Homo sapiens: one gene and its partner. The protein of the gene in region 1 interacts with the protein of each later gene in a biochemical or structural test. Each region holds a gene or a part of one and is shown on either strand. Other genes may lie near its edges. The genes, in order: SLC7A11 and OTUD5.

Evidence for each region.
Region 2: of the proteins of SLC7A11 (region 1) and OTUD5, one has a biochemical effect on the other in vitro, tested with the Homo sapiens proteins (one study listed by BioGRID).

The regions. Positions count from the first base shown.
Region 1 is NC_000004.12:138,235,321-138,251,292, reverse strand, and holds the start of SLC7A11 (cystine/glutamate transporter), read left to right. Parts: upstream 1-8,943; 5' UTR 8,944-9,223; coding exon 9,224-9,500; intron 9,501-14,841; coding exon 14,842-14,968; intron 14,969-15,972. UniProt on the Homo sapiens protein: Heterodimer with SLC3A2, that functions as an antiporter by mediating the exchange of extracellular anionic L-cystine and intracellular L-glutamate across the cellular plasma membrane.
Region 2 is NC_000023.11:48,929,078-48,945,225, reverse strand, and holds part of OTUD5 (OTU domain-containing protein 5), read left to right. Parts: intron 1-942; coding exon 943-1,036; intron 1,037-8,874; exon of another isoform or gene 8,875-9,035; intron 9,036-10,207; coding exon 10,208-10,272; intron 10,273-10,358; coding exon 10,359-10,515; coding exon of another isoform or gene 10,516-10,530; intron 10,531-10,613; coding exon 10,614-10,762; intron 10,763-16,148. UniProt on the Homo sapiens protein: Deubiquitinating enzyme that functions as a negative regulator of the innate immune system. Has peptidase activity towards 'Lys-48'- and 'Lys-63'-linked polyubiquitin chains. Can also cleave 'Lys-11'-linked ubiquitin chains (in vitro).

The DNA of each region.
Region 1 (15,972 bases):
TGATTTTATGTTTTGACTTTATGATTTTTTTCTTTTTGTCAGAAAGATTTCAACAATTTATCTTGTTAAAATGATCTTTTTTTTCGTGGCTTCTAGAGTTTGTGTCAGTTAGATAAACCTTTTGCACTCTAGACTCTAAAGGAATTCTACCATGTTTTATTATAGGACTTTCTACCATGTTTTATTATAGGACTTTTGTGACTTTATTTTTACATTTATACCTTTGATCTATTATGATTTTATTTCTGTTGTATGGTATGAACAATTAGTTCAACTTTATGTTTTTCTAACAGTTTATGTAGGTTTCCCCACTTCATTTATTAAAAAATAATTTTAGCTTTTGTTTTAGATTCAGGGGGCACATGTGCATGTTTACTACATGGGTAAATTATGGGTATATTGTGATGCTGGTGTTGGGGGTATTAATGATCCTGTCACCCAGGTAGTAACTGTCACCGATAGTAGCCAATGGGTAGCTTTTCAGTCCCCATCTCCTCCGTCCCTCTTCTCTAAAGTAGTCCCCCGTACCTGTTGTTCCCATCTTTATGTCTATGTGTACTCAGTGTTTAGCTTCCACTTATAAGTGAGAACATGTGGTATTTACTTTTCTGTTTCTGCATTAATTTGCTTAAAATAATGGCCTCCAGCTGCATCCGTGTTTCTACAAAGGACATGATTTTGTTCTTTTTTATACAGCTGCGTAGTAGTCCATGGTGTATAACCAAGCCTCACATCATTTTTAAATAGTTCATATTTTTCCCTCTGGTTTGAGATGATACTTTTATCGTTAGATAAAATTCCAAATTTATTTGGGCCAATTTCTGGTCTTTAGATTCTGTTTTTAATGTACCTGCACCACCGGGTTTTAATTACTGAAAAATCGTAGTATATTTTGATGACCTTGTATTTTCTCAATCTTTGTTTTTTAGTCACGAAAAGTTAATATTTTCATATAATTGTAGAATTACTTTTCCTAGTTAAAAATGTTCTTGGCATGTTTATTTGTATTATGTTCCATTTGTAAATTAACTTAAAAAATTGACAACTTATGTTATTAGTATTCCTATCTAAAAGCATGACATATCTTTCTATCTGGTCAAGCTGTTTTTAAAAAAATATACAATTTACAGGCCAGGCACGGTGGTTCACGCCTGTAATCCAAGCACTTTGGGAGGCTGAGGCGGGCGGATCACGAGGTCAGGAGATCGAGACCATCCTGGCTAACATGGTGAAATCCCGTCTCTACTAAAAATGCAAAAAATTAGCCGGGCGTGGTGGCAGGCGCCTGTAGTCCCAGCTACTCAGGAGCCTGAGGCGGGAGAATGGCGTGAACCCAGGAGGCGGAGCTTGCAGTGAGCCGAGATCACGCCACTGCACTCCAGCCTGGGCGACAGAGCAAGACTCCGTCGCAAAAAAAAAAAAAAAAAGCATGACATATCTTTCTATCTGGTCAAGCTGTTTTTAAAAAATATACAATTTACAAATGTCTTGTTAATTTTATTCTTAGCTTTTAAATTCTTTGTTGCTATTGTAAATGGTATGACGTCTTTCAATATTTCATGTAACTTGTTTGTATATACAAAGTGTACTGATTTGGAAATTTATTTATTTGTAAACATTATCTTAAAATGGTTTAATTCATTGTAGGAGAGATTTTTGTTGTTGTTGTTGTTGAATGTTTTATTTTTTCCAGGTAATTAATCATAAAATAATGAGTTTTTGTGCTCTTTTTTTCCTTCTTCATGCCTTTTCTTGTCTAATTCTAGCAGTTAATGCATAGAAAATGATAAATGATAGAGGTGACAATATATTTCTTTATCTTATCTCTAAGATTAAGAAGAGTACTGTAATATTCCCAAATACTAGAGGATGCACAAAGCAGTTCATCCCTATTCAACTGTACCCTATCCCAGTTCATCCCAGGTGAAAGTCTTAGTAACTGCAATACAGCAGCCTGACAGCAGCTATCCATACTCTGCTGGTCACTTGAGTTGGGCTCGTTACTGCCATTTGGCAGGTGAGTCAGTAAACTACAGATTTTTTTGAGTCTGCACTCTAGACTACGTTCAATATCAACTGTCTTAATTCAAGTTCTCTAAAAAAAAAAAATACCACAAAATAAGGAAATGCTTCTATGAATACTGTGGAGGGAGTGCAGGAAGCAGAACACGGACGGGAAAGACAAAGAAAGCTAAAATTTCAGGTAAACGCCTAGCCTGATCCTGCAGCTTGGGAAAATAACTCCGGAGATTGTCTCAACTAAAGGCAAGTATGTTGGACTGTCATATTCTCAAATCAAGGAGTGATCGGTTAACATCTGTTAACATTCCATAAGGGATGTAAACTCCCAGGCATCCCTACTCTCTGCCCCCATGGGAAAAGTGGCTCCGTTAATCTAAGCGCCGTCCTCTGAGGAGAGTCGCAGGTATGCCTTTTTAAGCAAAAACAGAAGCTAAGGAACAAATACCCAGAAATAAGAAAAGTGATATGAGAAAATCTCTATAGAACATCAACTATCACCTACAATTGATAATATTTTTTTCCTATTGATTTAATATTGAGAGAAGTGTGTTGAATTTTCAACATTTGCTTATCAAATTTTCTTTGTTATTTTATTGTATGTGCTTCACATATTTTGTGCTGTGTTCTTAGATGCATAAAGATATTTTATCTGTACAATGACTCTCTTCATAATAGTTTTTGCTTCACAGTTTTTTTGTTTTAACTCCTATCTTGTAGGAATAGCAAGCACTGAATATGCAAAGAGAGTTACTAGTAAGAGAGAACATCAAAGTGGAAATAAATAGTCAATTCCTGTATCTTCTCTTAAGCCAGAGTCAGCGAACTTTTTCTGTAAAGAGGCAAATTATAAACATTTCTTATTTGGCAGGCCATTCAGTCTCTTTTGCAGTTACTCAACTCTACTGTTGTAATATGAAAGCAGCCATAGAAAATATATAAATGAGTGGGCATGGCTATGTTCTAATAAAACTTTATTTATAAAACTTCCTGTCATTAGCCCATTGCACTGACCTTGTAATGCCTTATTTGCAGTTAAGATATTGCTAAACAAAGAGTTGGCGAACTACACAGGAGCTAAGAAAAATGTTTATATTTTTAAAGGGCTGTAACACACACACACACACACACACACAAACACACAGATACACAGAACATGGACAGAGACAATGGGTAGCCTTAAAGTCTAAAATATTTACTACTTGGCCTTTTACAGGAAGTAGGCCAATGTCTGCACTAAACTCACAAAAATGAGTCTGGCAGTTTTTCCTCCTGTTTTCACTTTCTGAAATAATTTCTCTAAGGAGGAGATTATTTATTTCATAAAAATGTGGTAGGCCTTACCTGTAACACAAGTAGAACCTAGTTTTGTTTGGTTTTATTTTTTTGAGCCAGGGATATCCTTGATTAGCACCATAAATAGTTGCCATTCCATTCAGTTTTTCTGTTTTTTCTAATGACGTAATAGAATCGATTCATTTTCCAGAAATGTGTCCATTTTATTCTGAGTTTCACATTATTTTCCATATAGTAGATCACTGTACTCCTTTATTATTTAAAAATTCTCTTTAGCTCTCTAAGATATTTTCTCTTTTTTTAAACTCACATTTAATATATTTCCGAATTTTTTATTGCTTACATTTGCCAAACCTGTATCTAAATTATTATTCTTTCTAAATAATTAGATTTTCCAATTGGGAATGTTTTCTATTCCCCTTTTGTTCTTAATTTTTTTATTTCTGTAGTTATCTTTTTTTCTTCTTTGACTATATTGTTTTTACTTAAATTTTTCTGTTGAATATTGAGCTCATTTCCTCTTTTATTTTCTGATGAATGTATCTTGAAGCTTTAAGTTTTCCTTTAAGTTTTCTTTAATCTACTCTAACAAATTTGAACATATGGTTTTCATTGTTATTCAGTTTTAAGTATTTTGTGAATTTTTTCTCAGGGCCTATTTTCTAATTTAAAGATAAGTTGGTAGTATGTTTTTTTTTTTTTTTTTTTTGAGACAGAGTCCCCCTGTGTCACAATCTCAGCTCACTATAACCTCTGCCTCCCAGGCTCAAGCGATTCTCCTGCCTCAGCCTCATGCTGGGATTATAGGCATGAGCTACTGCACGCAGCTGGTAGTATGATTTTTAATTTCCAGACATATAAGATTTATTTTATTAGTTTTATAACTATTAATTTCTAATTTTGTTGCATGTTTATAGTAAGAGTGTATAGTTTACACAATGTTGATTCTTTGGAACTTACTGGGGTTTCATTTTTGTCTTCGATACGGATAGTTTTGTTAATGTTTCATATATGCTTGAAAATAATCTTTATTTTTTATTTGGTGGATGGGAAATTCTCTATAAAGTAACTCTATTGAGTTGATTAATTATGCTCTCCAAATTTTCTACAGTTTTGCTTATTTGTCTGCTTGAGCAATCTGTTTCTGAAAGAATATCACAAATTTTCAACTATTGTGCTTTTTTTTTATAATTGAGTTATGGCATAAATACAGAAAGGTATAACAATATAAATGTAGGCCAGGCGCAGTGGCTCATGCCTATAATCCCAGCACTTTGGGAGGCCGTGGCGGGTGGATCAGTTGATGTCAGGAGTTCAAAACCAGCCTGACCAACATAACAAAATCTCATCTCTACTAAAAATACAAAAATTAGCTGGGCATGGTGGCACATGCCTGTAATCCCAGCTACCCAGGAGTCTGAGGCAGGAGAATCACTTGAACCCACCAGGCAGAGGTTGCAGTGAACCGAGATTATACCACTGCACTCCAGCCTGGGCAACAGAGTGAGTGAGACTCCGTTTCAAAACAAAAATAATAAAATAAAATAAATGTAAATCTCAGTGAATTGTCAGAAAGTTAAAATATTCAGGTAATTACTACCCAGGTTATAAAATAGTACAATACCAGGACTCTAGAACTGTTTTTGTTCCCCCTCGCAATCACTAGAAATGCTTATCTCCAAAGATAACCAGAGAGTTCTCAGACTATAGAATCATTTCACTTGTTTTTAAACTTTATATAAATTGAACCATGCAGTATATGCTTTTTAATTCTGTCTTCTAACATTATGTGAGAGTCACCCATATTGTTTTTTTATATCACTATTGTTCGTCCTTTTTTTTATTGCATTGCAGTATTTCACTAAATAAATACAATGATACATATATCCGTTGTACTGTTAATGGACATTTGGGTTATTTTCAAATGAATAAAGGTACTAGGAATGTTCTCATCCAAGCTTTTTGGCATATAGATGCCCTGCATTTTTACTGGGCATATTCCCAGGAGTGGGTTTTTTTTGTTCAAAGGGTATGTGTCTGTTTAACTTTAAAAGATAACACCAAACAGCTTTCCATAATGGATGCACCAATTTGTGTCCCCCCACCAGCAGTGTAAGAATTCTGGTTGCTCCATGCTGTCAGTACTCCTGGTATTGCCAGTCTGTCTCATGTGAGCCATTCTCAGTGGGAATTGATGGCTTATTGTGGTTTCGGTTTTAATTGCCCCAATAGCTAATACTGTTGAGCAGTTTTTTACAAATGAATTGACTATTTTATTGAGCATCTGTTCAAATTTCTTGGCCATTTTTTATTGGGTTGTCTGTCATTTTCCTATTTATACAAACTTATTATTTATTCTGGATATGAGACCTTTGCAAATTGCAAATATTTTGTCCCATTTTAAGATTCACTTTTATAATCAAATAATATATTTCAATAAACTCAAAATCTTAATTTTAATGTATTACACTGTATTTTTCTCTTTTTTGTATTAGGGCTTTGTGTGTCCCTTTTAAGAAATCCCTGCTTACACAAAGTTTAGAAATATATTCTGCATTTTCCTCTAGATCAGCACCGTCCAGTAGAATTATAATGGAAGCCACAACTTTGAACCACGGATATGATTTTAATTTTTAGTAGCCATAATAATAAATAAAATAGGTAAAACTAGTATGAATAATACAAATTGTTAATAACTTTTTTGTTATTTTTCTTTAAGACTTCAAGTTCTAGTCATATTTCAAGGGCTGATAACCACATGTAACTAATTATTATCATATCAGGTGACCCATTTCTAGAAGCGTTCATGATGCACCATTCAAATTTAGCTCCATGATCCACGTGCAATTGACTTTTGTGTGTGTTATTAGGTAGCATACCTAGCAAGGAAACTAGGTAGCTTACAGAAGCAAATGAAGGTCTTCAGGATCCCGAGCCAATCTGGGTCCCTTAGGAACTAACATAGGGCATGATAGTACTAGGACTTTCTGAATATCTCTAATTTCTGCACATTCTCTGTTATTCTGTGAGGATATTTGCAACACGCCAGGGAACATGGCCACCAGTTGTTGTCAGATCACATCTTTACAATCTCCAACAACAGATGAAAAAAGCTGATTCTAATTCTGTTTAGAAATATCCCAGCTCAGGTAATATTCCAATACTCTGCAGCCAGAGCACTGGATTATTTTTGGCCAGGCCTAGATGATATGCCTGTATTTATAACCATGGGACAGAAATTGTTACTAGAAAACGGTAGCTACCAGTATACATTATTTCTATTTCTATTACGAGATGCTGTGAGGAAGCTAGGACTATTTCTTGTGCACAATAAGCAGTAAATAAGTATTTGCGAATAGCACTAGGATAGTCTCATAATTTGACAGCTATACTTAAAATAAGGCCTAATACAGGATGAAAAATATGTATTCATTTGCTTTGAACACATTTTTATGATACACAAGTATTTGAGGACCATCCAAACTCTTAGTTTACAAGCTTAGAACTGGCAATTTTAAGAGTTCAAGGCAATTCAACATTTTCTTTATAAACTGCATTTTCTACAGATTTTGGGGTGCTTAGAAGAGGTACACTGGTGCCCTTAGCAGCAATGTGCAGCTTTGCAAACATTCTGAGTGGTGGCCTCTATCTTACATGAAAGTACAATCCTTTTGGTTTTTAGTCTAACATCAGCCATTTTTCTTCATAATTAAAAAAAAAATACTGTGAGGAGGAAAATGTTATTTAATATTGAAAGAATAATCGTCCTTTATAATTCATTCAGTTTCCTATCTGAGTGGGGTCTTTGGCTCAACTTATGAGTTCAGTTATTTATAACAAAATTTAAAATTAAAGTGTGACACTGTGTTAATTAGAGAAAGTTGCTGTTCCCTGAGATTCCTAGTGTCCTACTTTTACCTCATATTTCTTCAGAGCTAATATGTTTCTCTTACTGGGAAAGAAGAGCTGCTCCTTAGGTCCATTAATCAGGAAAATTGTGTGAGTGAAAGGAGATGTAGGAGGAGGAAGAGAATTGGAAAGAAAAGAATCTCTATTTAGCTTCCTTCTTTGGGAGTTTTAGCAGGATTGCATGAGGAAAATGATCCATTTTTGTTTTTTGAAAGACATTAACAACTGAGAAAAAGTATTTATTTTGGTTTTATAAAAACTTTAACTTGGTGTAGCTGAAACCAATTATATAGAATTTAGATAGATAATTTAAAAAGGAGAAAATGTAGCCTCAATTATTTGGATGGCAAAGCATTGAGGTGGTGTCATTTTCTCAGGTGTCAACATAACAGAAAATGGTTCTGACCTTTTCCATGCTACTTTCCTAATGGCGATTTCTCATTTCTTTCTTTGATCATCCTCACCATACTTGACTCCCTTCTTTCCCTGCCAACCTCTCGCACACAGGCTTTTTGTTTGTGGTTTTTGTTCAAAGGTTCAGAAGCTTATTTAATGGTGCGTATAAAGGTAGCTTCAGGGTAATGATAACATTCAATTCTTCTCACTGAATCCAAAACCACATGTAACTATAGCCAAAAATGATATCTAGGATTTCTTTTCTTTTCATATTTGTTTTTTCTTGACACTTGGTTGAGAAAGTTAGAAGGGTTTAAAAATGTTTTGCCTTTTTGACTATTGCAAAGTAAATATTTTAATTTAGCTTACATTTTTAATGCATTTTAAATTTATAATAATAACAATAGTTTATATAATGTGGAAAAAAGTCATACATAATATCATTACTTTCTATAACTACCATTCTGTTTTCCTTTACAGGCTTTTGCTATATACATATTTTTATGTAATTGTAATTGTGTAATTTTGAACTTAGAAATTTTTTTTGGTAATTCAAAGGAACAACATGACAATGAAGGATATGTATCTTTTACATAGTTCAAAAAAATCACCTAGTGCTAATGAGAATCAGAAAATGACTATTTTCTGGAGTCATGGTGAATTTTGTATTAGTCACACTCGGATGGTGATTTAAAATACTGGTTTATTATGAGTAGTAAGAAATAATTTTATCTTTTAATGTTGAGGAAGGCTTATAGTTGTGTGTATGTGACAGAAGTATAAAGTGTAGAATCTTTAATTTTGTAAATATTGGATTTGACTGTATTGCCTTATAAAAAACTCAAAATAAAAAAATAAAAAGCATTACACAAATTATGAAATTCAAACTGTGTTGTTATAAACAATGTAGCTTTAGGATACATTCTACTCACAAAACAGTCGCATGTAAAATGTTTTTATACACGCATTAAAGAAAAAGAAACTCCTTAAAATGAAGTAACTATTTCCTGTTTCATTTTGTTTGAACAGCTTTTGTTGCTCACTACGAGTTGCTTTAAATCTCTGGGAAGGTCTGTTCCGAATTTACTACTTCTGGATTGGCTAAAATCTCTTTAAAGTGTGTGCTTTGTTCTCTAAAAAGCTTAGGTCAGTTGAGCAACAAGCTCCTCCTGTTTTTTTCTTTTTTTAAAAAAAAGAGCTGAGTAATGCTGGAGGCTTCTCATGTGGCTGATGCAAACCTGGAGAATTTGCATCATCATTTAGCTGTAGTAAGTTGGTGTGACAGGCAGGCGCTTAAATACAAGCCCATGAGGAAGCTGAGCTGGTTTGTAATGATAGGGCGGCAGCAGCAGCAGCAGCAGCAGTGGTGGAACGAGGAGGTGGAGAATTGAGAGCACGATGCATACACAGGTGTTTCTGAGTAGTAATTAGATCGCTGTGAAGGAAAAAGCACACCTTTGAGTTTTCACCTGTGAACACTATAGCGCTGAGAGAGACAGTCTGAAAGCAGAGGAAGACATCGATCAGTAACACCAAGAGACACCAAAGTTGAAAGTTTTGTTTTCTTTCCCTCTGTTTTATTTTTCCCCCGTGTGTCCCTACTATGGTCAGAAAGCCTGTTGTGTCCACCATCTCCAAAGGAGGTTACCTGCAGGGAAATGTTAACGGGAGGCTGCCTTCCCTGGGCAACAAGGAGCCACCTGGGCAGGAGAAAGTGCAGCTGAAGAGGAAAGTCACTTTACTGAGGGGAGTCTCCATTATCATTGGCACCATCATTGGAGCAGGAATCTTCATCTCTCCTAAGGGCGTGCTCCAGAACACGGGCAGCGTGGGCATGTCTCTGACCATCTGGACGGTGTGTGGGGTCCTGTCACTATTTGGTGAGTGCGACTTTTTCTCTCGTGGGGGCGTGGCTGTGGGGCTGGAAAGCTTGCTTTCTGGGAAAGCAAATGGTAGTTTTTGAGGAGTGAATGGATGGCAAAGGCCACACCAAATTTTTAAAATTTTTGTTCGGGTACGTGAACTACCCAGATGCAGCATCCGCTGTTGGTGTGATCTGGAACACCCTCAAATTGCTTCCTACAGGCTGTACTTTCTTTTCCTGACTAAGACAGGCTATCTTCTGACTTTTCTCTGTGGTGATGAGAGCAAAGGCTAACTTTCATGACCCAGTAAAAAACATGCACACTTTCTGTGCCGGGCAGTTGTACACTTAGCTTGGGCATTCTGGCAGCTGGCATGCTGAATGAGACACCTGTGAAGTGGAACCTGGCATGGGCTATTTAGACATAGAACGGAGTGTTCAGCAGAAGTCTTACTGACTTTTTATTAGCCAAACAAATGGGTGGCAGTCTTTATAAAAATATTTTTTAAGTTCATGTGCTTGTCACCTCTTAATATCCTTTCAAAAGTCCTTGACATGGGAGAGATGTATGATGGCGCATAACTCAATCCCTATCATAATGGGGTATATTGCAATGGCCTGAGCATATTTCAAATTACTTTTCAACCTTTCATCTCTTCTCAATACCCATACACTTTTGCAATATAAGTTTTAAAACTTCAGTTGGGCGTTAGTTTTCTGTACTTGCCCAGATCTGTTTTTTTCATTATATTTCACTTGTTCTCCAGGGACACAGAGAATTTGTCCACCTGTTCACTAAATTAATCTGAAGGGAACTGGCAGAAGTATAATTATGAATTTTTCTTCAAAGTTTATGTCTCTTCTATTGATCTGAGAATTAATAGTAAAGAGGTAAATAAATGCCCCCTTATGGAGTAGGCAAATTACTAGAGAGCTACCTGAGTTTGTTGTAAAGATGATAAAAACTGGTGAACTGTCAAACATTAAATTTGATTTATGCTATGAGGATTTATTTACTCTTCTTGGGAAAGATTCTGTACTTTAAAGTTGCTCTTTGTCTTAACTCTGGGACTAACACTAACTAACAAGTACTAACGCTAACTCTAGGACTAATTAACAAGTACTAACTCCTGTTCCCATGTGTACCAATCAATTCATTCTTTCTACTCAGGCCTTGTGATGTTTTAAATCATTGGTTTGACACTCATCTAGAGAACTCAAATTCCATTTTTTTTTTTTTTTTGAGACAGAGACTCGCTCTTTGCCCAGGCTGGAGTGCAGTGGTGTGATCTCGGCTCACTGCAACCTCCGCCTCCCAAGTTCAAGCAATTCTCCTGCCTAAGCCTCCCGAGTAGCTGGGACTACAGGTGTGTGCCACCACGTTGGGCTTATTTTTCGTATTTTTTAGTAGAGATGGGGTTTCACCATGTTAGCCAGGATGGTCTCGATCTCCTGACCTCGTGATCCACCCACCTCAGTCTCCCAAAGTGCTGGGATTACAGATATGAGCCACCGCGCCCGGTCCTCAAATTCCATTTTTAGGAAGAAGTTATTTTAAATAGAACTTGTTAAAACAAGTAGTATAGAAAGATTTATAGAGGAATTATTTGGGGTTTTTAGAGAGAGTTTGTGGTATTATTTATAACTAACTTGTGCTTTATTAAATATTCAGTAACAATTGTGTATCATTATTTCCCAGTATTACTTCCCATCTTTATAAAATAATTTGGAGTAATATCATTATGAAAAACTCTAATAGTACCCTTAGCCACTATTAATATTAAAATAGCTCTGGTATATGCACTTATAGAAAAAGAGAAACCTAATTGTTGATCATCTTAAATGATTTTGTGCACCCTCAGCCTTTAAATCTTCCTACAGCACTTTATATATTCAGAATAAATCAATATCTAATCAGAAAAACCACAACCAGTTTACTGGACTTTGCGTACTTATGTGCATGCAGCTTCCACTATGTGATTCAATTTTTGCACATAATAAAAGATTATTCAGATGTAATAAAATAGATCAGTATGAGTATTGAACTAGTTAAAGTGTGTTGACTTGCACTATGAAAATATGCTTATGCATAAGTATTACATATCATCTGAAGCAAAAGCTCAAAAAAAAATAAAAAGAGAGAAACAGCTAAGGAGACTAGCTAACATTACACTTGAGTTGGTATTCTTTGATTAGTAATTGCAGGGAGTGTGCTCTTGTATTAATCTACTTATCTTTATTTGCATTGCATTTGTCACTTAAGTTACCAGAAGCTTTTGGACAGGAGTGCCTCTGTAACAGCAAGCAAAGCAAAATCTGAAGAAAAAATAATCCTTCTTTTTAAAAAGACTCTAGAACTTTGGGACCAACTGTAAAGAATCTGTACATTTGGTTTAATACATATATATACTTTTTTTTTAAGTGAAGGGTCAATACATGGATTTTTACATCTTGTTTTGAACTTTTTTCATCTGGGCAAAATGGTTATGAAGCTTGAGACCTTTAAATGAAAATCATTCCCCCAGAACTCAGTTTAAACCTAGGGCAACCATCCTGGAGTTTCAGTAAAGCATATAGAGGTCTAGGTATTGATTCTCTGACAATAAATTCTGAGGTACTTAAGACTCTTCCCAATAACATTTTATATTGGATCCTTTTCTGGACAGCCTACCAACATGGCGAATGTTTCCCCATGGAGAGTGAGTTGCAACTAGTTAAAATTAGTTATAGGTAGATGAAATACATCAGTGTTCCCCAAATATTAGTCTGCAGACTCGTTACTTTAGAATTATTTGTACAAATTTTAAAATGATAGAGATTCTTGAATTTCTCTTGTGGACAATCTATACTCTCTTGATTAGAGTCTGTTTTTGGTTTGAGTGTTTTCGAATTAAAAATTATTCCCAGACTGAGCATGGTGGCTCATGCCTATAATCTCAGCACATTGGGAGGCTGAGGCAGACAGACCCCTTGAGCCCAGGAGTTCCAGACCAGCCTGGGCAACATGGCAAAACCCTGCCTCTACAAAAAATACACAAAAATTTAGCTGGGCATGGTGGTGTGTACCTGTGGTCCCAGCTACTTGGGAGGCTGACGTGGAAGGATCACTTGAGCTCAGGAGGCAGAGGCTGCAGTGAGGCAAGATTGTGCCACTGCACTCCAGCCTAGGTGCCAGAGTGATACCCTATCTCAAAAATTAAAAAAAAAAAAAAATTATTCCTAGGTGACTTTGATGTCATGATAAGTTTAGAAATCAGATATAAAATATGTAACACTAAGATTTCACTGAATATCCAAATTATATTTATATTGAGCAGTTCTGTCTAAATTATTACTAATCAGTAGTACTTTTCTACACTTTTATTCTCAGAAGTAGATTGGAAAAAAATTGTGTTCTTACATTTGAGCACTTGGCAGTACAGATAGAACTTTTCACATAATGACAGGATTTTTTTAAATTTTCTTGTTAATTACTCAAATTAATAAGTATAGCTATATTTCATGTGGTGCTTGCCATGTGTCAGGCCATGTACTGTACTAGGTACCCGCTGCCACATTTATACACACAACTCCTTTATGAGGTAGAAGCTGAGATCTCCATTTCACAGAGAGTGAAACTGAGGTTTTGGGGAGTTGCATATTTGTCCAATTTTATGTGAATTGTATCGTTAAATGTTAAAAATTTAGCTTATAGTTAATTTGATCTAAAGTACACAAATATAAATTATAGCACCTCATTTTAAAAAGTATATTCTGGGCCGGGCGCAGTGGCTCACGCCTGTAATCCCAACACTTTGGGAGGCCAAGGCAAGCAGATCACCTGAGGTCGGGAGTTTGAGACCAGCCCGACCAAAATTGAGAAACCCTGTCTCTACTAAAAATACAAAAAATTAGCCAGGCGTGCTGGCAGGCACCTCTAATCCCAACTACTTGAGAGGCTGAGGCAGGAGAATCACTTGAACCCTGGAGACAGAGGTTGCAGTGAGCAGAGATCGTGCCACTGCACTGCAGCCTGGGGGGACAGAGTGAGACTCCATCTCAAAAAAAAAAAAAAAAAAAAAAAAAAAAAAATATATATATATATATATATATATATATATATATATATTCTGGCTAGGCGCAGTGGCTCACACTTGTAATCCCAGCACTTTGGGAGGCCGAGGTGGATGGATCTTCTGAGGTCTGGAGTTCAAGACCAGCTTGGCCAACATGGTGAAACCCTGTCTCTACTAAAAATATGAAAATTAGCCAGATGTGGTGGCAGCCACCTGTAATCCCAGCTATTCGGGACCCTGAGGCAGGAGAATTGCTTGAACCTAGGAGGCAGAGGTTGCAATGAGCTGACAGCGCCATTGCACTCCAGCCTGGGTGACCAAAAATTCCATCTCAAAAAAACAAAAAACAAACAAAAAAAAACACCCAGAGAGTACACTTCAAAAAACATCCAAGATAGCCTTTTATAGAAACAGAGTCAGAATTCATTTTGTTGACAAAATATATCCTACAAATTAAATGAAATCTTGGCCGTGCACAGTGGCTCACACCTGTAATCCCAGAACTTTGGGAGACCAAGGCGGGCAGATCATGAGGTCAGGAGATTGAGACCATCCTGGCTAACACCATGAAACCCCGTCTCTACTAAAAATACAAAAAAAATTAGCCAGGCGTGGTGGCGGGCGCCTGTAGTCCCAGCTTCTCGGGAGGCTGAGGCAGGAGAATGGTGTGAACCCAGGAGGCAGAGCTTGCAGTGAGCCGAGATCGCGCCACTGCACTCCAGCTTGGGCGACAGAGTGAGACTCCGTCTCAAAAAAAAAAAAAAAAAAAAGAAATCTTGCAAGTCAGAGAGTCCATGGTTTTCTAAAGAGTGGATACAGCTTGTTCATTTTGATTTTCCACAGAAACATAATTTATTAAAAGGGTTCTCAAAAAATAACTCAAAAAACTTAAAAGCTAACTCAAACATTTGGACTAATGCCTTGTCTTGGTGTGAGGTTGTGTTCTTCTAAAAATAGGTCAATATTATTGACATCTCTCTCCTCTTTTTCCCCTATTTCCAGGTTTTCAGCTCAAAATTCTGGAACACATGATATTGTTGCAGACATGTATCTTTGTCATTTCAAGTAAAATTATAGTGTTCAAATAGAATACACTAAATCTCAACTGTGAGGATGTTAGAAAAGGAACTTGGCGGGTCTTAGCAATTAGATGATGGTTATTTGTCTTGAGTAAGGATGCCATTCAGACCAAAGGAGGCAGTTACATCTCAGGCAACATATAAACATTATTGTATCTATTCTAATGCTGGGTGTCTTGAAAATGTATTAAATTGGTACCATTTTGTGACAAATATTTCACAGGAGCTTTGTCTTATGCTGAATTGGGAACAACTATAAAGAAATCTGGAGGTCATTACACATATATTTTGGAAGTCTTTGGTCCATTACCAGCTTTTGTACGAGTCTGGGTGGAACTCCTCATAATACGGTAAGAGCATAGTAGAAAGAATTAAGAAAAAATAAACCAATTCATTCTTATGAATCACCTTGATTATTTTTAACTGGTTAGACACATGCATGTCATGTGACTACATGATAAACATGTCTACCTCAGGATATAAAGCCTGTGATAAAGTACCTTTCTGAATTAAGATATTTTTAATGCAATTTTATCACTGACAAGCAGTTCACCAGCAATGCCAAACTTTTAGAAATATCTACCTTTCTTTGACCCTCAGCTATTCTCTTTGACACTTCCAGGAGAAAGATGCTTACTTGAAAGAATATGAACATGAAAATTCACCTGGATACCTTTTGACCAACTAGACCAAATTAAATATTGAAGTTTTCTCTTATTGTAGATTATATCATTAAGGCATTTAACTTTACTTAGTCATTGTGACCAAGACACTTCTGTGCCTCACAACTTAGTTGGTCACCAAGTCTTATACTTCATAAAAAACAGAGTTTGCATGACAGAGTCAAATGACTCATTTCCTTATATTAAACAGATTAGGAACTACAGTTCCAAAAGTCTTTTTTGATTTTATTGTTGTAACAATGTGTTTACATTCCTGCTTGTCTTGGTTTAAAATCACACTGAATAGTGCTAAGTCACTCTGAATAGCAAATTTCCTTCGACTTTGTGGGAAGCTTATGATGTCATATGAGCATTTCAGAGTATCACAGTTCCTTAAGGCTAACTACTTTGATAAAATGTGATGTGCACAGTCTGATTACAGAATTTAATGGATATTACTAGGGAAACTTGCTCTTATCAAACTTATCAAACATATGTGATTGAGAGTTCATGTGAGCTTTTATGGCTAAGTGCCAAATACAGTGCTAGTAAGTATTGACAACACTAATCATGAGTTTTACAGTGTTAGAAGTCTTTTTTTTTTTAACCAAAAAAAGATCTTCAAAGTAGTATATGCTTCATGAAGGCTTTTTCATTTTAAACACTCTGCATTATTTAAAATTGTTATAATG
Region 2 (16,148 bases), on another chromosome or scaffold:
AAAAGGGAAAGTGCAATAAAATCGCTGATAACACCAGGACTTAGGGATATTTTGCTGTCTAGCCTTCCCAATTTTGTGTACGTGTGTTTGTATACATACATATGTATATATGTGTAGATATCTGTTAAATGTGTTCAGTCACAGATGAGAACATTGTTTGCACACTTTTGCCTTCTAGAGTATATCTCTTTTTTTTTTTTTTGAGACAGAGTTTCGCTCTTGTTGCCCAGGCTGGAACGCAATGGGGTGATCTTAGCTCACCGCAACCTCTTACCTCCTGGGTTCGAACGATTCTCCTGCCTAAGCCTCCCATGTAGCTGGGATTACAGGCATGCACCACCACGCCTGACTACTTTTGTATTTTTATTAGAGACGGGGTTTCTCCATGTTGGTCAGGCTGGTCTCGAACTCCCGACCTCAGGTGATCCACCCACCTTGGCCTCCCAAAGTGCTGGGATTACAGGTGTGAGCCACCATGCCCGGCCTACAGCATATCTTGGAATCCTCTAGCCCTTTGTCAGGTTCAGGATCTAGGCTCTTGCTAGTTACCCCCTCTTCACCACCTTTCCTAGATGAAACTCCTTGAGGTAGAGCCACATTCTCCACCCAGGCACTTGCTGGGTCTGAGTCTCTGGCTGCCTGAGGCAGTGTGGCTCCCTGGGCCAGGCCCTGCAAGGTCAACAGAAGCCATAAGGCATATGGGGCCACTGTTCTCAGGGCACCTAGGACCCTTTTGGAAGTAAGTCTTAGTTTCACTCAGCAACTAATTCCCTAAAAGAGTCTCCTACTTCACATGCATGGAGTGGTCAAACAGGGCTGAGAACTTTACCTTGGCCAGCGTCCTCTCTGTCAATGATCTAGGCCTCTCGGGAGCTTGAGGTCGGGGCCCTGGGGAGGGAGTACAGGTTTTCCCTGTTGCTGACCCCCACCTCTTCCCTCCAGCAGGAGCATTGGTTTGAAAAGGCCCTACGAGACAAGAAGGGCTTCATCATCAAGCAGATGAAGGAGGATGGCGCCTGTCTCTTCCGGGCTGTAGGTGAGTCTCTGCCTTAGTCCTTAAGGGCCTAGGGCTGCCCCTAAGCTGTGTCCCAGTTATCAGGAATAGCCCCTGAGACAGGGTTGAGGCAGAGCTAGCTAATCTTTTAGGGACTCTAGGCTCCAGCCTCAAGTTGGTATCTGACCTCTAGCCGTGGGTCTTGAGACATTGTAGTGGTGCAAGATTAATATGCATAATAACAGCAAGAAGAATGATAAAGAAAATAATATCCTTTGGGACACATTGTCAGGTGCTACAGGAAACCTCTTTGATTCCCCTCTAAGCTAGGTGAGTGTAGGGACTACTGTTGCTTCCATTTGTCAGATGAGAAAAGTGGCTCAGAGATGGTGGGTGACTTGTCTGGAGTGAAATAATAAGTGGTAGAGTTGGGATTCAGTGTCTGGGTTAGATTAGTCTGAGGCCCATGCTCTTAACCATAGCATACTGCTGCCACCCTGGGCTGTATGACCCCTAGGTTTATACCCAGATCCCATCTCTGGTGTGTTGCGGGTCTCTGTTCCTCAATCTGTGTGTATGGGGGCTATCAGACTAGATCTTTACAAATTTCTTATATCATAGAATTTTTTTTCAACTTATATAAAAGTAGAGAGAATGATGAACCCTCATGTACCCATCATCCAGCTTCAAAATAGTCAATACGTGGCCAGCCTTGTTTCATCACTATCCCGCCCACTCTTTCTCACTCCCCTGAAAGAAGAGTATTTTTAAAGCAAAACCCCGACATTGGATCATTTCATTCATAAATATTTCTGTATGTTTCTCTGACAGATACAGACTTACTCTCTTCTTTTTAACATAATCAAAATGCCATTACTGCACCTAACAGAATTAATAATGCCTTAATACCATCTGTTATCCAGTCTGAGTTAGATCTTTGAGGCCATTTTGGCTCTGAATCTGTGACCCAACAAGTAGTTGTGAGGTCCTGTGCTAGGGTGAAGGGGAAGCTGGGAATGTGACCTGATCCTCCCTGTGGTTCTCTGATATCTACCAAGGAAAAGTGCCCTCTGATAGGAGCTTTGAGCTGGGAGTCAGAAGACCTACCTTCTAGTTCTGGCCCTGACTCATAACTGCTGTGACACTTGGCCTTGGTCTTCCCGTCTGTGAAATGGTGTTGATTCTCAATGCCTCTTTGAGTTCCTTCTTGGTCTGCTATTCTCTCCGTCTGTGGGTACCCCCCATGTCTACTGGTGGGCTGGGGTGTTTTAGGCTCCATCCCTGGCTGCACAACTGATTCTTGGTATGACCTTAGGCAAGCAGCTCTTCTTTCCTGAGGCTGTTTCCTCATCTGTAAAATGGGGCTAAAAGACCCTAATGCTGTAACGATTTAATGAAGTTGCTTTGGTAAATCCCTTTAGTGCCTGACACATATAGTAGACCCTCATGGAACAGTAGCATTTGTAAAACCCAGATGCCATTTTCACTGGTGCCTCAGAGTCACATGTGTTTGTTGAAAGGGTGGAGTGAATGGTCTCCTCTCTATTCTGCCAAGCAGAAGAGGCTCAGGCAATGGGCTCTATTGGACTGGGAAAAAACTTATCCCTCCTACCCCTCTGGCTCAAGTTTGTGTTTTCCCTGGGATGTTTCCCAGAGGAAGAGCTGGGTTTCGGGGCATCTTGGACAAAAGAAAGGCAAAGAAAGAATAGGTGGGGGCCTGTTAGGTGCTAGGCCCTGTGTTGAGACCTCAGGCTAGATGTGGGGTAAGCAGGGCTTCTGGTGGAGTTAGGATTAGAGAATGCAGCGGGCATCTGAGTCTTGGGCAGTCATTGAGGGTAAGCCTTGGGACTGGCTAGTGAGGACCTGGCTTGTGTAGTAACTCATATCAAGAGCCGTGTGTGTGTGTGTGTGTGTGTGTGTGTGTGTGTGTGTATCTAGCTAGCTGTTCTCTGTGTGTGTGTGTGTGTGTGTGTGTGTGTGTGTGTGTATGTGTGTGTGTATCTAGCTAGCTGTTCTCCCCAAATACCCCCGACCCTTGGGGCTAGCTAGTGAGGACCTGGCTTGTTGTAGTAACTCGTATCAAGAGCAGTATTTGTGTGTGTGTGTGTGTCTATATGTATCTAGCTGTTCTCCCCAAATACTCCCGACCCTTCCTCCCACTGGGGCCTTCAGTAAGGGGCCTCTACTTACAGGAAGAGCTGACCAGGGCAGGTTGAAGGCCTTTCCTTATCGGCACTATGGCTACACATTTCCCCTGACTGGGCTGCCTTTGGCTTTTCTCTGTAAAACCTCAGAAGTCCTCTGGCCTCTCCCCCGAAGTACATGGCCCTTGGTCTCTAGACCTTATCTGGAGGTTTCCTTGGTGCAGAGTGCATAATACATGTGCCTGGGAAGGGGACTTTGTCCCTGGGCTTTTTGCTGCCCCCGTTTCCAGCCTCGCCTGGATGGGGACAGATGGCAGTCAGCTTAGACTGTAGTGTGAAGCCCTACAGGCTGACTTCCTGCCATGTGTTGAATAGTGGAAGGAACGTGGAGCAGAGAGTTGGAGTTGGGCGGGGGCTGCAAACATAGAGGGCACTGTTTCCTTGACCCCTGCTGTGTGCTAGGCATTCAGCTGGGTGCTTCAGGCTCACTGCAAAACTTGGATCATTATCCCATGAGACAGGTGAAAAGATTGAAGCATAGAAAGGGAAATGACATGCTCAGGGCCATTAGCCAGAGCTGGCCTGGGAACCCAGAGGTGTCCAAAGGACACGCATTCTTTTTTTTTTTTTTTTTTTTTTTTTTTTTTTTTTTTTTGAGATGGAGTCTCCCTCTGTCGCCCAGGCTGGAATGTGCAGTGGCGTGATCTCGGCTCACTGCAACCTCTGCCTCCCGGGTTCAAGTGATTCTTCTGCCTCAGCCTCCTGAGTAGCTAGGATTACAGGCGTGCACCACCACACCTGGTTAATTTTTGTGTTTTTAGCAGAGATGGGGTTTCACCATGTTGGTCAGGCTGGTCTCAAACTCCTGACTTTGTGATCCACCCGCTTTGGCCTCCCAAAGTGTTGGGATTATAGGCATGAGCCACCGCATCCGGCCAGGACACATTCTTTTTATGATCCTAGGATCCTTAGCTTCTTAGCTTGGTTGTCAACTGGCTGGATGACCTTGGCTGTGTTCCTTGACTTCTCTGGACCTTACCTCCTCCAAGTAGGAGCACGTGGCCCTCTGTTGTTGGGAGTCTTGAGGCAGGTGGCTTTCTGCCTTCTGTTCCCCTGGATTATCTTCCTATAGGGTCCTACCATTTGCTTTAGAGACTTCTGAGAATTGCCTACTCCCCAGGTAGCTGCCTGCCTGCCATTGGTTCCCCTGAGTTAAGCAATATCCATTGCTTGCGCTCAGTTCTCTCCCACCTCCTCTTATTGGGGATTCATGAGCATCATTGAAGGCTTGGGTGGAGTGGAGGTGGGAACCTGAGCCTCAGAGGTATCCTGTGGCCCACCCTGTCCCTGTTATGCTCAGATAACCTCCTCCTGGAAACATGACTCTGCATCTCTCCCTTGCTCCCTCCCTCCATGTGGCTTTGACTCAGCAGAAACCTCTAACCCTGACCAGGGTCCTGGTGCTAGCTTCTGTGGGCAGAGTGAAGGCCACATGGTTGTTTCTACATGGGCCATGGGGGAGTGGCAAGGGCTGTGCATGTTACCACGATGAGGCCCAGAAACATTAGCTAGGCCCACTCTTCTGGGCCTTTTGGTCTTGGAACATCAGCACTAGGAGGGATGGATCTGAGATCAATTTTGATTGTTTTATAAATGGGGAAACTGAGGCCTCAAGAGAAAGCCAAGACCCTACCCTATCTAGGTCATACAACCAGTGTCAGAACATTGGTATTTGAGGTTGAACCAGGCCACAGAAAGAAGATTCCCACGGGCCATTTCCTGTACACCAGCTTCCTTCAGCCTCTCCCGTGTATCCTTCAGGTTTCTCATCCTTGCAGTGGGAATCCTTGAGCAGAGGAGCACACATCTCAGGAACCAGACTATCCAGTGGGATGAGTTCTGTCTCTCCCACTGAGGGTATGCTAGTTGGGGTAGTTGGGGCTACAGACCAGGTCACACCACAGCTGCTTGACAGGCAAGTGAGACCTTTGTCCTGGCTCATCTCCTCAGGAGATTGGTTCTCAGTGGGGCCAGGGTTCCCACTGGACCAGGAGGGTAGTGGGGAGCAGACCAGGTCCCTGTCTCCCTCTGCAGCTGTGTGTACACACGTTAGTGTGGTTTGTTTTTAGGTTCCCTGTAGACACCTAGCTTCCTTTTTTGCCCTTAGCGGAACTTGCTGTGGCTCTTCTGGGAGGCAGGCAGCTACCTGGGGAGTAGGCAGTTCTCAGATGTCTCTAAAGCAAATGGTAGGACCCTATAGGAAGATAATCCAGGCTCTCATGTCTTGCTTCTTAACATAAATCTGGGTACATTATTGGTTACATTACATTAGTTACATAAGGACTTCCCCCGGGCAACAGAGGAGAGAGGTTGAGGCTAGTCTGTTAGAGCTCTTGGTTATTTCCCCTGCCCTCCACCTACCCTGCCAGAGGCCAGGAAGGAGGTTGGTGGGGTAGGGGGTCCCTCAGTTTATAGAGCCTCACATCTTCAGTCTTTCCTGAAGTGGCAAGGGCATCTACTCATTGAATGTGATAGTTCTCTGTTGTGGGATTTGTTGGGTGAGCATTTGGCCTCAGGGAGCATCTTTGGCAGTCTCTGCTGTATGTGTATACACATGTGCATTTCTATACTGGTGTCTCTGTGTGTCCAGAAAAAGGAAAGAAGTGGGGTGTGTATGGGGAGGGTAAGGTTCATATTGGCCTCTGTGGCCCTAGGGAGAGATGCAGCCCCTGATATCTATAATCTCTGCCCTCTCCCATGCCTTTCCTGGGTTCTAGCTGATTCCTGCTTGTGCTGGTGTGGAAACTGAGGCACACAAGATCAGGTCCTGCCCCAGGGAGTAAGGTGACTAAGATGGTGGCTGGATTGGGGTGAAGGTGGTAATATCAGCTGGGGCCAGCAGTTACCCTTTGAGAGCCTGGCCTCCCCTTCACTCCCCCTAAATCTGTGATCCCAGGCAAGCTTTGCCACATTTCTGTGTCTCCTGGGTAAAGTAAGAGTGTTTTGGTAAGGATAGAATGAGTTGGAGTGTGAAAAGTCTTTGGTGTGGGACCAATTGTAGTATTGTACTGAGGATTTCTGAGCCCTGTTTGAGATGGGAACAGAGGTAGAATGGTGGGGGACCCCCTTCCAGCTGGCCTCTGGGAGGGGAGAACAGGTGCAGATTGCCCACAAGTGCAGCGTCAGCAAGAGGAGGAGTTTCAGTTTCTATCAAAACAAGTTCTCTGAATTCCCCTACCTCTGCAGGTCATCCCCCCAACCTCAGACCCCTCCACAGGGAAGTCAAGCCTGGCCCCCAGCCCTGTGTGCCAGCCTTCTGGGAAGAGGAGGGCTTTCTGGAGGACAGAGGTGGAGCTAGGAAAGTCAGAAAAACGAATTCTTTTTTTTTTTTTTGAGACAGAGTTTCGCTCTTGTTGCCTAGGCTGTAGTGCAGTGGTGTGATCTTGGCTCATTGCAACCTCCACCTCCCGGGTTCAAGCGATTTTTCTGCCTCAGCCTCCCAAATAGCTGGGATTACAGGCATCCACCACCCTGCCTGGCTAATTTTTTGTATTTTTAGTAGAGATAGGGTTTCACCATGTTGGCTCGGCTGGTCTTGAACTCCTGACCTCAGGTGATCCACCTGCGTCGGCCTCCCAAATTGCTGGGATTACAGGCGTGAGCCACCACACCTGGCCAAAAATGAATTCTTGTTGAGTACTTCCTATGTGTTTAGCTCTGTGCTTAGATGCTTTTCCTGCCTTATATTATTGGAGAAATCCTTCTATTCTCCCTTGTTGGGGTAGTACTATTGCTGTTTTCCTTGGTTTGGAGATGTATATTTTCTTCCACGTTAATGATTCCAAACTTAGGGTATACCTTATAATCAGTGTGGTGTGTTTCCCCCCTCAAAAGCTGTGATTAGGTACATGTTATACCATATCACCTATCAGTGCCATCATAGGATTGAGGAGAGAAGGTGGTATTTTACATTTTACAGATAAGTAAAGAAGTGTCATAACTCGTCCATACTTTAGGACCCTGTTTTATGAAGCCTGTATTGTTAATTCGATATTAATTTAACTGCTGAAGTTTTGTTAGAACTAACGGCCTAGAGGTAGACTTGTGGACCTTTGGTTTCGCTAAAGGTAGAGAGCCAGGAGAGGACATGCATCCTAGGTCTGCATTTGGGGCTTTCCTCTGGCTGAGGAATTGCAACAGAAATGAGGAAGGGCTTCATAAGTGGTTATGGCAACATTCTGGCTGACTCGTGGGTAACTAGCATATGAAGGAATCATTGTCGTCATGACAAATTGTGTTCCTGTTTCTTGACCACCTACTGTGCCTTAGGTGCTTGGCAAACCTCCTGTGTAGTTTTGACAACACCCAGCAGATGGAAGAGGAGTTACTGTCTCCACCTTATGCATGAGGACATTTCAGCTTAGAGAGGTTAAAGGCCTTATCCATTGCTACACAGCTAGGAGGCAGCAGAGCCTTTCTGCCAGGCAAAGGGGTCAGTGGCAGAGAAATGGGACCCTCAGGGGGTTTTCCCCCAGATCCCTTCCCTGTTCCACAGTCTCCTCTCTTTCCCCATTTTCCTGCATCTGGCATCTAGCTCTTGAAGATAGAACTCCCAGGCCTGGAAATGACCGTTGACCTTTCCATAGGAGATGGGCTTTCTCCAGCACCTCAGCCTATCTCTCTGAGCCTGGCCAGCCAACCCCTATTTAACCCCTTCATTCTCATCTTTGTTCCTGTTTACTGCAGCTGCCAACAGCACTGCCTCCCAGTACCCCAAGCTCAGTCTACAGAAATAGCTCCCCAAGTAGCTCACTGTGCGGGCTCTGTGGTCCTGGCTTCTAAGAAAGGCAGCAGCAGGGGGCCCCCAGCCTGTGCGCAGGACATGTGACTTGCTGGAAATGCCGCTGGGGAGGGCGGGGGAGAGTGTGGCCGCAGAACCCACATCCTTGTTTACATTGGTGAAGGGGCTACCCCCCTTCCCGCCTTCACAACCTCCACACCCCCTTACCCTTCAGGTCTCTTCACCTCCAAGAGGACTGGAGACAAACATGGGCCCTATTTTCTATCTCAGAGTAGCCTTTCTCACAGAACACTCCAGGGTAGGAAGGGGAAGGCAGGGAAGGTGTTCTTCTGACAGTTCTTCAGAGAGGTAGACTGACAGGGAAGAACTCAGGAGTGTTCCTGTGTGACCTGACCCTAGCCCCATGCCCCAGGGAGATCCCATCAGAGCAGTGGTCCTCTGGGGAAACAAAGGGAAATTCCCAAAACCAGTGGAAATCAGACTTGCATGATCTTCAGGCCCACTTTAATTTCACAGGGAGAAGAGCTCCCTGGCTTACCCAGCCTATCCATTTGCTCAGTAAACTTTTCCTGATTTCCTTTACTGTATCGGGCCCTGAGCTGGGGGTGGACTTTGGTGTGAACTGCCCTTTGCCTTCTGTGGGAGCCCAGTGTGGTCGGGCAGAAGTCTATGCACACCTTTGATAAATCTGGTGATAGAGGTGTCCTGGGTAGTGGGGAACTGTATTAAAGAACATGTTGGGCCAGGCGCGGTGGCTCACACCTGTAATCCAGGCACTTTGGGAGTCTGAGGCGAGAGGATCGCTTGAGCCCAGGAGGTCAAGGCTGCAGTGAACTATGATCGCGCCACTGCACTCCAGCCTGGGCGACAGAGCGAGACCTTGTCTCAAATAAATAAATAAATAAAGAACACATTGGTGTTTGAGAAGTAGGCAGCTGACGAGGATGGAAGGAGCGTCCTGAAGAGAAGGAACGGCATGTGTGAAGATCCTCAAGCGAAGCAGAGGGAGTGTGTTTCCTTCTCGCCTTAGTTTGACCAAATCTCACGACGCCTGGACTATTCGGGCCACAGGCTGCCCATCCTGAGTTAAGCTAAAGTTAGTTGCATGTGTGTCTTATCTCTTTTACTAGACTGTGTGCTCCCCGAAGGTAGGGGCAGGATTTTACTCACCTCTGTCACCTTCACAGTACCCCACATTCAGGCCTCCCTACGGAGGAAGGAATTCTGATTTACTCTGTGGCTACTCTGTCCCAAGCCCAGTGGTAGTTATTTTATACCCGTTATCTCATTTAATCCCCACAAAAGGCCTGCCATTTGGTTATCCCTTTTTTTTTTTTTTTTTTTTTTTGAGACAGAGTCTTACTCTGTCGCCCAGGCTGGAGTGCAGTGGCATGATCTCGGCTCACTGCAACCTCTGCCTCCTGGGTTCAAGCGATTCTCCTGCTTCAGCCTCCCAAGTAGCTGGGATTATAGGCGCCCGCCACCATGCCCGGCTAATTTTTGTATTTTTGGTAGAGACGGGGTTTTACCACGTTGGCCAGGCTGGTCTCGAACTCGTGACCTCAAGTGATCTGCCCACCTTGGCCTCCCAAAGTGCTGGGATAACAGGTGTGAGCCTCCACGCCTGGCCTGTTATCCCTCTTTTTCCCATTTTACAGATGAGGTATATGAGGCTCAGAACACTTGGGTCACTTGCCTCTGGTCACTCAACTCTCTAGTATCTGGCAGAACTGGGCTTGGAGCCCATTTTTTTTTCTTTCCTTTTTTTGTCTTTGTTCCCTTTTTTTTCAGCCTACAAAGGCCATGTTGACTTGTAGGAGTCAGGAAAACTGAATTCAGAGTTGACTCTGTCACAGACTGACTCTTTGTGACCTTGGACAAACCACAAACTCCCCCTGAACCTCAGTTTCCTCATGTGGAAAGCAAAGGGGGTGTGGGAATCAATAGCATTTGAGGCCAACCTGTGGAACTTAGAATGTTGTTGATTTCTCTGAGTGGCCACGTGTACCCTAGACAAAGTCATCTGCCCAAGAGGCCTGTGGATGTGTTCCTCTCACCTGCACTCTCTTGTTCTTCAAGTCTGGCCCTGCCTGCCATATTTTTCCATGACCCCGTTCTAGCCTACAAGGGCAAGAACTCTCCAGGCCTTGGGGTAGAAAAGGGAATTTCCCTGGTCCCCCAGTTCCTCCTCCCCAAAGGATGTTCTATGATTCAGAGCTCTTCTCTGGCATCTCTGACCCTAGCTGCTGCTTTCTTCTGCCCCCACAGCTGACCAGGTGTATGGAGACCAGGACATGCATGAGGTTGTGCGAAAGCATTGCATGGACTATCTGGTGAGAAAATGGAGGCCTTTGGGGAAGGGGCAGGGTGGGAGGATTTCTTCTCCACACAGACCTTAACCTTCCAATCTATTCTGCAGATGAAGAATGCCGACTACTTCTCCAACTATGTCACAGAGGACTTTACCACCTACATTAACAGGAAGCGGAAAAACAATTGCCATGGCAACCACATTGAGATGCAGGCCATGGCAGAGATGTACAACCGTCCTGTGGAGGTGTACCAGTACAGCACAGGTACTTCTGCAGTGGGTAGGTGAGGGAAAGATGGTGCCTCATTCGAGCCTGCCCAACCTGGCCTGCTGTGGATGCTCCCTCCTTCTCTTTCTCTGCAGAACCCATCAACACATTCCATGGGATACATCAAAACGAGGACGAACCCATTCGTGTTAGCTACCATCGGAATATCCACTATAATTCAGTGGTGAATCCTAACAAGGCCACCATTGGTGTGGGGCTGGGCCTGCCATCATTCAAACCAGGGGTGAGTGGGTCCCTGTGCCCAGAATGGCTGCTGGATATAGAGGTCAGAAACCTCTGTTGGAGTCTGTTTTGCCCCTAACTCACAAAAATATCCTGTCTCCTCTCTCCCCTGAGGTCTCACCCTTACAAAAAAAAAAAAAAAAATAGGGAGTTACTTAAGGTGATCTCTCAGGGCTTGTTCTTTGGTCTTGGTTTGCCTGTCTGAGTTGGCTTACCTATCTTTTGTGCCCGTTGAGGGCTGGCATTTTAGGATGTGGAGTCCTATTTTGGAGCAGTGAGCCAGGGCTTGCTCTGGGCATCTTGGCATGGATCTTTCTCCTGGGATCATAGTGGTTACAGACAGCCATGGTCACAGAGACATGGGGTACAGGCCTGGCCCCACCACTCACTGGCTGTGTGATCTAGGCAGATTCTGTAAGTATTCCAGGCTGGCAGCTTGGCTGATACAGAAAGCACCTCCCACTGGGCCTGGGGCCTAGTAGGTGTTCAGAAGGTGGCAGTGCATTTTCCCAGCACATACCGATAGATTCTCATTCATTTCTCTCTCTCTCTCTTACAGTCATTTGCTGAGGATTTTGGTATCTTCTATTCAGGTTTCACTTCTACAAACACAAAGTACTCCTGCTTCATTTTCGGAAACACATAGCCTAACACCAACACACCCTCCAACATAGGGTTCTTTTTTGTTTTGTTTTTAAATAAACTTAATTTTAGAGCAGGTTTAGATTTACAGAATTACTGCAAAGAGGCTGGGCACGGTGGCCCACACCTGTAATCCCAGCATTTTGGGAAGCCGAGGCTGGCAGATCACCTGAGGTCAGGGGTTCAAGACCAGCCTGGCTAACATGGTGAAACCCTGTCTCTACTAAAAATACAAAAATTAGCTGGGTGTGGCAGTGGGTGCCTGTAATCCCAACTACTCTTGGGAGGCTGAGGCAGGAGAATCACTTGAAACTGGGAGGCAGAGGTTGCAGTGAGCCAAGATTGTGCCACTGCACTCCAGCTTGGGCGACAGAATGAGACTCTGTCTCAAAAAAAAAAAAAAAAAGTTACAAATATATTACAGAGTTCCCATATGCCTCGCTATGATTAATGTATTAACATAGTACATTTGTCATAGTTAATGAGCCAATATCGACATATTATTAACTAAAGACCATACTTGACTCAGATTACCTTAGTTTTTCCCTAATGACCTTTATCTGTTCCAGGATCCCATCCAGGGTGCCATATTATATTTAGTTGTTGTGTCCCCTTTATCTCCTCTTGGCTGTGACAGTTTCTCAGAATTTTCTTGTTTTTTGTATTCGATCTGTTTACTGACTCTCGTTTTGCCTTTTCTAGAATGTCATATAATTGGAAATGTACAGTATGTAGCTTTTTCAGACTGGCTTTTTTCACTTAACACTATGCATTTAAGATTCATCTGTGACTTGTCCTGGTTTAATGGCTCATTTTCTTTTTTGGTGGGCGGGTGGAGAGACAGGGTCTCACTCTCTCACCCAGGCTGGAGTGCAGTGGGGCAATCTAGGCTCACTGTAGCTAGCCTCCACTTCCCTGGCTCAAGCAAGCCTCTCACCTCAGCCTCCCGAGTAGCTGGGAGACTACAGGTGCTCGCCACCATGCCCGGCCAGTGTTTTAAAAAAACTTTTTGTAAAAAAATGAAAAAAAATTTTTTTTTTTTGTAGAGACAAGGTCTCACTATATTGCCGAGGCTGACCTTGAACTCTTGGGCTCAAGTGATCCTTGTGCCTCGGCCTCCCAAAGTGCTGGAATTACAGGCATGAGCCACTGCACCCAGCTTCCTCTTTTTCTTTCTTCAAAAATATGAATGTTCTGGCCAGGTGCGGTGGCTCACGCCTGTAATCCCAACACTGGGAGGCTGAGATGGGAGGATCTCCTGAGGTCAGGAGTTCGAGACCAGCCTGGCCAACATGATGAAACCCTGTTTCTACTAAAAATACAAAAAAAAATTAGCCGGGTGTGGTGGCACACACCTGTAATCCGAGCTACTTGGGAGGCCGAGGCAGGAGAATCACTTGAACCTAGGAGGCAGAGGTTGCAGTGAGCTGAGATTTGACCCCTGCACTGCAGCCTGGGTGACGGAGCGAGACTCTGTCTGAAAGAAAAAATAAAAATGAATGTTTTAAGTTTTTGTATTTAATAGACTTAATTGTTTAGAGCAGTTTTAGATTTACAGAACAATTGAGGAGATAATACAGAATTCCCACATATCCTTCTCTTCCCAAACACAGTTCTGCTATTATTATTATTATTATTATTATTATTATTATTATTATTATCATCTTTTTTTTGAGACGAAGTTTCTCTCTCATCACCCAGGCTGGAGTGCAATGGCGCAATCTTGGCTCACTGCAACCTCTGCCTCCCGGGTTCAAGCAATTCTCTTGCCTCAGCCTCCCGAGTAGCTGGGATTACAGGCACCCGCCACCACGCCCAGCTAATTTTTGTGTTTTTAGTAGAGACGGGGTTTCACCATGTCAAAGGCTGGTCTCGAACTCCTGACCTCAGGTGATCCACCCATCTCGGCCTCCCAAAATGCTGGGATTACAGGCGTGAGCCAACGCGCCCAGCCCAGTTCTGCTGTTATTAACAGTTCAAATCATTATGGTACATTTGTTACAATGTGCGAACCAACATTAATACTTTTTTTTTTTTTTTTTTTAAGGCAGAGTTTCTCTCTGTTACCCAGGCTGGAGTGCAATGAGGCGATCTCGGCTCACTGCAGCCTCCGCCTTCTGGGTTCAAGCGATTTTTCTGCCTCAGCCTCCCAAGTAGCTGGGATTACAGGTGCCCACCACCACACCTGGCTAATTTTTCTATTTTTAGTAGAGACGGGGTTTCACCATGTTGGCCACGCTGGTCTCAAACTCCTGACCTCAGGTGATCCACCCGCCTCGGCCTCCCAAAGTGCTGGGATTACAGGCGTGAGCCACCATGCCCAGCCTAATACGTTACTATTAAATGAAATCTGCATGCCTCCTTAGGCCCCTTTATCTTTGATAGTTTCTCAGTTTTGTTTTGATGACCTTGACAGTTTTAAGGAGTACTGATCAAATATTTTGTAGGAAATGTCTCTTTTGGACTTTTTCTCATGTTTAAACTAGGGTTGTGGGTCTTAGGGAGGAAGATCACAGAGGTAAAGTGCCATTGTCATTACATCATTTCAAGGGTTTATACTATGAGTGTCATTTATGCCTGTTGGTGTTACCCTTGATCAACTGGCAGAAGTAGTGTTTGTTAGGTTTCTCCACCTAAGGTTACTCTTTCCCACCTTTTCCATACTGTACTGTGTGGAAGGAAGTCACTATGTGCAGCCCACGCCTAAGAAATGGTTATGCCCCATCCCCTTGAGGGTAGAGTATCTACATAGATTATTTGGAAATCTTTAAGGAGGATCTGTGTCTCATCCTTAACTCATCCTTAATTTATTAATTTTTCCAGTTATTACGTACATCAATATGGTCTTTTTTTTTTTTTTGAGAGGGAGTTTCGCTCTTGTTGCCCAGGCTGGAGTGTAAGGGCGCCATCTCAGCTCACTGCAACCTCTGCCTCCCAGGTTCAAGCGATTCTCCTGCCTCAGCCTCCCGAGTAGCTGGGATTACAGGCATGCGCCACCACACCCAGCTGTTTTTTGTATTGTTTAGTAGAGATGGGGTTTCACCATGTTGGGCAGGCTGAAGTCTCGAACTCCTGACCTCAGGTGATCCACCCTCCTCGGTCTCCCAAAGTGCAGGGATTACAGGTGTGAGCTACTGCGCCCAGCTCAATCAGCCATTTCTTTAGAGAGCCCTGGCATGTATTGGAGACTGTTAACAGAAATCAAGACCTAGGTGTTGAATGTGCTCTTCGATATCAGGTTGTCCATGCTTCTAGGCCCTGTCAGCTGATAGAGCAAGGAGCTACATGTATGTATAGTGGCCTTTGTACACATATCTATAAATATTTCTACCTGTAACCATCTGTATTTATATTAAACATGAATCCTTACTGATGTCTCCAACTCAGATCCATTATCACATGCTTCATTCTAGCCTTCTCCCCTTGTTCATCTGCAAATTCCCTCTCCAACAGTAGATACGCCATCAGATGTATATGCACTGGTTCCTACCATCCATTTATGTAACTGCTCATTTCCATATACACGCGTAGCAGAATCACACTTGTTCACCCGTACCCCCGTGGGAAACAACTTTATCACTATAGCTCAATGCTACATATAGTTCTTTTTTGCCTTTGGTGTTACAGACTCCATTCATTTTGAAAGTGACCTACTTGTACCCCCACCCCCTTCAAATGAGGGTGTTTATTTTTATTTTATTTTATTATTATTATTTTTTGAGACAGAGTCTCGCTCTGTCGCCCAGGCTGGAGTGCAGTGGCGTGATCTCGGCTCACAGCAAGCTCCACCTCCCAGGTTCACACCATTCTCCTGCCTCAGCCTCCCGAGAAGCTGGTACTACAGGTGCCTGCCACCACACCTGGCTAATTTTTTGTATTTTTAGTAAGAGACGGGGTTTCACCGTCTTAGCCAGGATGGTCTCAATCTCCTGACCTCGTGATCCGCCCGCCTCGGCCTCCCAAAGTGCTGGGATTACAGGCGTGAGCCACCGCGCCCGGCCAAGGTTGTTTCATGTTTGTAATACATTTGTATTATTTTGTCACATTTTTGCATTCTATGCTGGGATCTCAGATCTCCTAATTTTTTATTTATTTATTTTTGAGACAGAGTCTCACTGTCGCCCAGGCTGGAGTGCAGTGGTGCGATGATCTCAACTCACCGCAGCCTCTACCTCCTGGGTTCAAGCAATTCTCGTGCCTCAGCCTCCCGAGTAGCTGGAATTACAGGCATGCACTACCACACCTGGCTAATTTTTGTATTTTTAGTAGAGACGGGGTTTCATCATGTTGCCCAGGCTGGTCTCGAACTCCTGACTTCAGGTGATCTGCCTGCCTCGGCCTCCCAAAGTGCTGGGATTACAGGCATGAGCCACCGCGCTGGCCATAGATCTCCTAATTTTTATTTTATTTTATTTTATTTATTTATTTATTTTTTGAGACAGAGTCTTGCTCTGTCACCCAGGCTGGAGTACAGTGGTGCGATCTCGGCTCACTGCAACCTCAGCCTCCGTGGTTCAAGTGATTCTCTTGCCTCTGCCTCCCGAGTAGCTGGGATTACAGGCACGCGCCACCACGCCCAGCTAATTTTTTTGATTTTTAGTAGAGACAGGTTTCACCATATTGGCCAGGCTGGTCTCGAACTCCTGACCTCAGGAGATCCACCCACCTTGGCCTCCCAAAGTGCTGGAATTACAGGCATGAGCCACCGTGCCCAGCCTTCCTAATTTTTTTTTAAATAGCATATA